Regions from separate parts of the Homo sapiens genome. Here region 2 is reported to be linked to region 1. Evidence: microRNA targets listed by miRTarBase, many of them from high-throughput screens and not tested one by one. Region 1 holds a microRNA gene; the other region holds the end of a gene's coding sequence.
Evidence for each region. The annotated mature microRNA hsa-miR-377-3p reads AUCACACAAAGGCAACUUUUGU and lies in region 1 at 2,460-2,481, shown strand. An mRNA with a match to its seed (bases 2 to 7 or 8) in the 3' UTR can be bound and repressed. Matches are read on the target gene's strand: a 7mer-m8 pairs with bases 2 to 8, a 7mer-A1 pairs with bases 2 to 7 and ends in A, and an 8mer does both.

Region 1 (4,069 bases):
TTCTTCTCAACCCTCTTGCAGTCCGTCTGCTAACCGTCAATGTTCACTGTCTCCTAGGGGGACTTCCTGGAGGAGGCCAACTTTGGAGAACAGGCATTGACATTGGGTCTGCGCTAGCGTGTGGTACTTGAAGATAGGTTATCCGTGTTGCCTTCGCTTTATTTGTGACGAATCATACACGGTTGACCTATTTTTCAGTACCAAATCCCGCCTTGGAGGGCTTCCTGGAGCGGAGTCTTACTTCAGGGTGTCAGCTCCTCTCCAGGGTAAGGAAGGGGACCATTGACCATAGCCGACCCAGCAGTGTGCCCTGGCCCTAACCCTGTGTGTGCCCCGTCCTTGGGGAGGTTTCTAGAGATGGTGCCACCTTTGGGGAAGAAGTGGAGCTTTTCCTATCAGAGCTACTCTGTGGTACTGGTGGAGAGGTCTTCCATGATGCATTCGATTTATTTTTTGACCAATCCTACATAGTGGACTCTTTTGAAAGCATTAAATCTAGCCTTAAAGCACCCTCGGGTGGTGCCGAGTTTAGGAACTAGAACTGGTGTCTGAATGCCTGAACGCACGGCGAAGCTGACAGTGTGCACACTCTTCTTGGTGGGTCGTGCACCTGCAGGCGTCCTGCTTGCTTACCATGGCAGTTTCCTCGAAAGAGGCGGCAGTTCCCTCATCGGCTCACTGCATGTTTGACAAGACACCGTCTTGCTGTCTTCCCTGCTGCCCTCTCTTCATGTATCACAGATGGTGCTCTGCAGACCTCTCTGCTGTGGCACTTCCCTCCCTGAATGGCTTCCTGCAAGAGGTGCTAATTGCAAGTAAGGGATGGAGTGCGGCCCGGACCGCAGAGCTTATTTCGTGGGTGGTGTGTTGCCACCTTCCTGACTCTCAGTATCCCGTCCGTCCTCAGGCCTGCTGCTGGGACGCGCTGGAAGCGAGCACCCAAGTCAGGTACTCGAATGGAGGTTGTCCATGGTGTGTTCATTTTATTTATGATGAGTATTACATGGCCAATCTCCTTTCGGTACTCAATTCTTCTTGGGAAACGTCACGAGGGGAAAGCCCAGCCGGCACCTGCGCAGGGTAAGGAAGTGGATCACCTCCGCATGACAGGTGCTCTCTGTGTGACTTACATCACTTGGCTCATATCCCGGCCATCATTAGGAGGAATTCCCCGAAATGATGCTGACGTTTTAGTTGACATGGTGGTCTTCTAGTCGCATCCTTGAAGACTCGTCAGTGAATAAACCACATTTAGTCAACCTTTTTAGGTGTGAAATCATCTTGGCTGTGTGGCACACTTTAGGGAAAGGAACTCCTGGCTGAATGGAAGACATCCACATTACGCCCTCAAATACCTTATCTTCTGGGTGACCTCTGGGAAGCAAGGGGTGAAGGGGGTTTCCTCAGCAGTGAGAATTAATGTTGTTTAAAGACACATTTCCATGGCACGACTCGGTTATTCCTACTGCAAGACGAGAATTGTTAATAGCATTTATTACTACCTTATGTTGCCAGCTGTGTGCCCTTGGAAAATCCCTTCACCTATCAGCTCTCTGGGCCTCAGTCTCTTCCTCTGTAAAGCAGGGTTAACAGCGGAGTGGAAACGTGCTCTTTGTGAAGTGTCTAGACAGCGTCTGGCACGTGGCTGTAGGATAAGCATTGTTTCTGAGGATGGTCATTATATGAATGTTATGTCATCTGCACTCATTGTCCTCTCGCCACTAGAATGGAAGCTCCCTGAGGGCAGAGTCCTTGTCTGTTTTGCCTGGTGCTGTGTCGCCAGATGTGCACAGTAGGTGTGATGCTGAATGAATGAATAGGCAGCGTGACCTGTTTTCTTGGTTGAACTCTCTTTGAGGCCTCCTGGAATGGAGTGCATGGAGTACAGTCACCTGAGCCTGTGCTGTCCCTGTGACGCAGCCCCACCCACCCTCTGAGGATGCTGCGCTGGACGAGGAGTCGCCAGCCTTCAGGTCGGGTCCTCCCTCAAACCCCTGTAGGCTGGACTGAACACGGTCACATGGTTCATTGGCAGCCCCCTTCTCTGTGTGAAATCCTGCTTCAGAGACTTCCAGAGGAGATACCGGCTCTGGAGGTGGACCTTGGTGTTCCAGCCCCTCTAGGGTAGGTGACCAGGGGCTGACTCTAGCTCGGGCTGACCTGTGATGTGTGTGTGCATAGCCTCGCCCCCACTGCCTGCTCCAGGGCTACAGAAGCTGGTCCATGACCAACCATGTTCTGACCACTGCCTGGGGGGCTTCTCGGAGGTAGAGAGAGAGAGAGAGCAAGAGGGGAGAGAGCGAGCCAGCAAGCCAGCGAGCCTGCAGCTGGAGTCAGCAGGGAGGTCCCGCAGGCAATGCCGCCTTTGGTGAAGAGGCATCTCGGTGTGTTCTTGCCCGTGCTGATGTTTGACCCTTGAGCAGAGGTTGCCCTTGGTGAATTCGCTTTATTTATGTTGAATCACACAAAGGCAACTTTTGTTTGAGTATCAAATCCTGCTTGGGATGGCTTCCGGGACCCAGTGGCAAGCTCAGGGGCATCTACACCCCTCCCGTGAGCAAGAATGGACGGGGTAGACGTGGGTGGTCTGCCCTCTGCGGTCCTCTGCGGTGGATGAGAACAGATGTCGCTCAGAGAACACAAGCTTCATTCATGATGGGGGCGGGGCTCGCGGCCCGGGGAGGATGGCGTTGGTGTCGCGTCGGCTTTAGCTCTTACCCTGGACCCTGTCTCTTTACATCACCATTTTGGCTGTGTTGATCCCAAAGACATTTTGACTCCACCATTTTTTTTTCGGAAGGTATTTGACCTCGCGGATACACAAAGAGCTCACACTTGGCAGGGTCTGTGACGAGTCTGCAGCCCCAGACCCCCGTCTAGCTCACAAGCACTGTGCTTCTTTCTGCACCTTTCCTTGTCTCTATCTTTCTCTTTCTATCCCCCAACCAAACATTGTTCCCAATTTTCTCCTGGGTTATGAAACAAATAGAGGCTATCAGTATCTCATCCCATTTGTATTAAATAATACTGATAAAAATAATCAACACAAAATAAAACTAAAAACAGCTGAAACGGCACAGTGCTAAATGTGTTCAGTTGACTACAAATTGGCAGAGGAATCCAATTTTCTTGACAACATTTCAGCTGTGACATTTGACCTGGGGAAATAGCAAGCTGCCGACGTGGCAGCCATGGAAGGAAATTCACGGTGGCGGCGGTGATAAACAGTGATATTTGATGTAGACAAGAACACATTGAGGAATCAAATCTTCATGCAGATTTTTAAATGGAAAAAATTGATCCTAATGAAAATGATTTGGGGAAAATAACAAGGGAAATAAGAGAAATGAAAACAGCTCAACAGCGCGGTCAGGAAAGCTAAACAGGGAATTGGATTAGTATAATGGCATTGGCTCTGAAAAACACGTTTCTATGAATATCAGTGTTGGTACAATTCTTGTGAAGGTGGTTACATTTGTGCGTGTTTACAGTGGAGTTGGTGGGGTCAGTAGGAACCTAGGGTCAAAAAATGGGATACAGTCTCCCCCTTTATGCAGTTGATCTTTTCTTGCTGCCCCAAACCTTCCCGAGAGCTTCCCGGAAAGGTGTGCTGACTTCAGGCGTGACACACTGGTAAGGCGTCCTCCCGGGGATCTGGGTGCATGTTGTCCCCAGAGCATTCATACGTAAGTGACAGGCATCACCTGGTCTCCCTCCATCCCCACGGAGGGTTCTGGGTGAGACGCTGACTCCGGAGGGAAGCAGAAGTTCTACGGTCAGTGGGGTCTGGTCTTTCAGGACAGTTGCTTCTGTGAACTCAGAAAATCTGAGACAGCTCTTAGTTAATTTAGAAAGTTTATTTTGACAAGGTTGAGGATACACCCGTAACACAGCTTCAGGAAGTACTGTGGTCAAGGCACAGCTTGGCTTTATACATTTTAGGGAGACATGAGACATCATTCAGCACATGTAAGAAGTACATTGGTTTTGTCTGCAAAGGTGGGACAACTTGAAGCGAAGGCAGGAAGGAGGGAGCTTCCAGGTCACAGACAGGTGATACACAAATGAT
Region 2 (4,069 bases), not on the chromosome of region 1:
CTTTCCTTAACTATGTAACAGATGTACCAAGAGTTATTCTATGTTTCTAGATTATGTATTTCCTTTCATATTGAAATGATGCATATATTTCTTTCCTGTGTACATATACCCACCAAACTTTTCCAGTAGTAATGAAACTCTCAAAAACTTTCTAAAGTAATGTGATGCTAGAAAATGCTAGTAAAAGCTAACCAATATACAATATATGCATGGAGTAGGAAGTTATAATTCCTTCTACTTGTAAATGTGACCTAATTACATTCTGCCTTCTTAAATTTCAAAAATAACATATATAAGCTGGTCTATCAAAATGTTTTAAACACCTAATTATCCACAATATAGAATTTGTTTCAACTTTAAACTAAACAAATGTATCTGCCTCTGAGCAGTAAACAATGGTTAGTGATATTTAGATAATAAAGTTAACTTCACAGAAACACCCAAATCTTGTATCTAGTAAGGATTTATTATAACAAATATTGAATAATTTATTATTTAAATGGTTAGAATAAAGTTCAAGGGAAATATAAGCAAACTACTTCTTTCTCTAACAATCTGAAATACATGGGGGTTTAAACCTTCTATATTTTTGTCAAAATAGTAATTAACCATAGATGACAGATGCTGCTCCCTAGTCAATGGAGGGTCTCAAATTTTACTCTGCATCTCATTGGGAAGGAAATATAAATTTTTAAAATAGAATTAACTTAGGGAAAGGCATCAGTGCTGCAACTCTTAGCACCAAATGTTTTTTCTTGGAGCACCAAATGCTCTAAGGAAAACATTCCAAGTATCAAAGTTTTCAGATAGATAAATATTTATGGATCAAATCCATAAAGAACAGACATTGTTATGAAATATATATAGATGCCTTCAAAACTTTCTTTCTAGGCAGAGTAGACACATAAGTTAGGAGTCATTTCCCACTTAATTGTTTTTGCAACCTTATGCAACACGAATGGATTATGTGCAAGACTTATTCATTTTTACACAGAAAGTAGATCTTGACTGACATGGTGTCCAGAAAATCAAACAGAAGCTATTTCTCTATATAAAATATAAAGTGCCATTAAATTTATAGAAATGGCTTCATTTTAATCTTTTTTTGGTGGAAAAGTATAGGGATTTTTGATCTGGTCTTTTGGTAAGAAAATAACACTCTTCAAAACAAATTCTTTTCAACTGCTAGTTAGTATAATTGGAGAAAAGCATAAAACAGATCTGGTTCATATCTTTAAGGGCAATGAAATTCCATCAGTCTTTGAACTTTATTAATGATATTTTTTCAGTCTACATATAGACCACTGCCACTTCCTCTTCATTAAGAGCTCTTCATAGTAGCTGTATAACAATCTACAGAAAGTTATTTTTCCATTTAAAGGCAGAGGTTAATTTTCATTGTTCATGCAGCAAAATGTAAGTATGCTACATAATTCTAGAGAAATTTGAAGTAGTTACCAAAGAAACATAGCCTTAGCTTCTGTAGTATTCTCAATGATATTAAAATAGCAATAATTGGTGTGCACTCATCAGAAATGAAGTGCCCATTTAAGGAAGCCACATTAGGTCTTGTTCCAGATGCAAATGCAGAACAAAGGGATACAATAACTCATTGCAGAAAGGGTTGGGTATACTATATCAGGCTTCCAAGTTACACTTGCATATGCAGCTACTGCCAATAGTATCATCTGTGAACATGAGGGACATTTTGGAACTGAATAGAATTCCATCCCTGAAACTAAGCATAACAACTGCATATTCAACCCAAGAAGGCATTAGCTTTATGTGGGCTTAAAGAAATGGTAGCACAGGCATAGGTAAAATTTTTATTTATGAATGTGTGGACACATGACTTTGGATCCAGCCAGCCAGTGACATAAATAAACTTGAGCAAAAGTTTCAAGCTAGAGGATATATATGTATAGAAAATTATATATTTGTGTGTGTGTGTAAGGCCTCTTGGAACAGTGCCACAAACCTGGACACCAACCAACAGAATACTCCCGTCCTTTGAAATTTCCATTAAGAGCACAATGGGGGTAATTATACCAGGATGCTCCAATCGCTCTTTCCATCTTGTGCACTCACATGCCCGCCAAACATGAAATGTTCGCCTTCTCCCTTCCAATGTGATGGTTGTTGAACTTATTTTTAGTGTCATTTGATAAGCCTTTGTGCTCACAGAGAGACATCCCACTGACCCAGCCACTGGTCATTGTCTATACCAGTTCACATCAAAGCAGGCGCACTTTGTCAGGTTTCCACTCGAATATCCATTTCGCATCTGAAGTACAGTATCGAAAGTGACTAGATCATTTGAGCTTTTTTCTTCAGCTGCTGCCTTCCTCCCCCACGGTGTTTCTGCTCACGCTAACATAATTTGGCATCGTCGACGTGACACGATGGTGGTTTTTCTAAAAAATTATAATACATACATCGTCAATGTTTTGTGATAGCGACCCTCCAGAAGATTTAATTTGTAAATTGAAGAAAGGTGGTCTTTTTCCTCTACTGAATCATAACCAAGGTAGAGTGCCCCTCAAAATCCAAGTAATGCGCATACAGTAATAGGTCATTCAATGTCAAAAGGCATAAAAAAGATGAGCAAAATCTTCACAGGCTGCTGCTTGCTGTTGCTTTTAATTATATTAATTAAACTTTGAAATTTTAATGCAAAGAGAGTTGCTGGCTTGTGACGCTGAAGAGCCCTTGGAGACTTGAAGAAAGAAAAAACCCTGAGCGGAAGCTTTGTGGTTACTGCTTCCTTTAAATTAAAAGCAAAACAAACTTCTAGGTATGTTTATGGATATTAATGCTTTATGCACTACTAAATCCTAAACACAGGAAAAGGGGGAATCTACTAGTCACAGGGACAAGTTCGCAAAAAATGAGTCCCTTGCACTACACTCAAGATCTCTGGCTAGAGGCCTTCTGTGGAATAACGCTCTATTAATTTTCTTGTCCCGAGTGCATAATGAAAGAAAGGTGTCTTCGAAAACTAAAGGGCAAAATCTTGCTTGCTACCAATACCTTGAGGCATCTTGTCTACATTTTGTCATGCGTGTGCACTTTTCAGTGTTAGAATGACAAGATTTTCCAGTCAGAAACTTCCCATAAGGCACACTGTGATAGAGCACTTGGAAGGATTCTGTGATCTGACATAGCTATAAGGCAATGGACTTCTTTATTTGCTTAGCCTGGTGGGAAATTTCATACTCTGCCTATGGATAAAGATCTTGCCACATAAAAACACAAGTGCCATGTTTCCATGTAAAAAACTCCTGTCTCCCATCATGGCTAGTTGTTTTGTGGTCCTTGTTTTGGTATCATCTTCGTGTTGTTGCTGTTGTTGCTTTTTCCTCTTCTACACATTCAAACAAACTTTCTTGTACAAACCATAGTCTGCAGGTCAATGTTCCTCTTTATTTTCAATGTCATAAATCATGAGTTACCACTGAGTTTCATCACCTCCCATGTAGATGGCAGAACAAGTGTTTAGAAATGTTTGGTGCAAGCAAAGCAGAAGGCAGAGAAAACATTTCCCGACTGAGAGGAATTAAGCTGCTCTTCCAAAAGCTTCTGAAATGCACTTGATTTTTTTCATTTGGTTGAAAATCAGCTATGTGAAAATGTGCCATCTTCGTACCTTCTTGGTCTTCCTGCTTCCCTTTTACTGAGATGGAACTCGGGAGAAGTTTATGCACCGGCCCTGAAGAAAGAAATAAATCCATATTGAAATATTGAAGCCATTATTTAAAAAAGCATGAGAACATCTAGTTTTCCTACCATGATAATAAATGATTACCCAAGGAAAGTACCATGTTAACTTGAGACATGAAGTCATAATTTTTTTTTCTTGGGTTAAAGCATGATGGTTCATTCAGATCTTTTCCACAGTAAGTTCACCTATGAGATGGTATGGTATAATTAATATGGAAAAACAATTATGGAAATAGAATGTTACTATTATCTAAAATACAGCATTACTATCACGGCCATAAAAATATCAAAGCCACAACCCAATATACTTCTTTATGTAATGAATTAAAATGAAAATATTTTCTTATGC

Region 2: the mRNA of ANTXR2 is a reported target of hsa-miR-377-3p. The part of its 3' UTR that is shown has no 7-base or 8-base seed match.

What each region holds. Positions count from the first base shown.
Region 1 is chr14:101,059,635-101,063,703 of GRCh38, forward strand. MIR377 (microRNA 377) reads left to right here and starts at 2,416; the gene lies at 2,416-2,484. MIR154 (microRNA 154) reads left to right here and starts at 121; the gene lies at 121-204. MIR496 (microRNA 496) reads left to right here and starts at 939; the gene lies at 939-1,040.
Region 2 is chr4:79,903,759-79,907,827 of GRCh38, forward strand. ANTXR2 (ANTXR cell adhesion molecule 2) reads right to left here. Exons shown (of 17, transcript NM_058172.6): 17 at 1-3,709. The coding sequence ends at 3,671. Among named protein-coding and RNA genes, the nearest start is that of PCAT4, 78 kb to the left of the region's middle.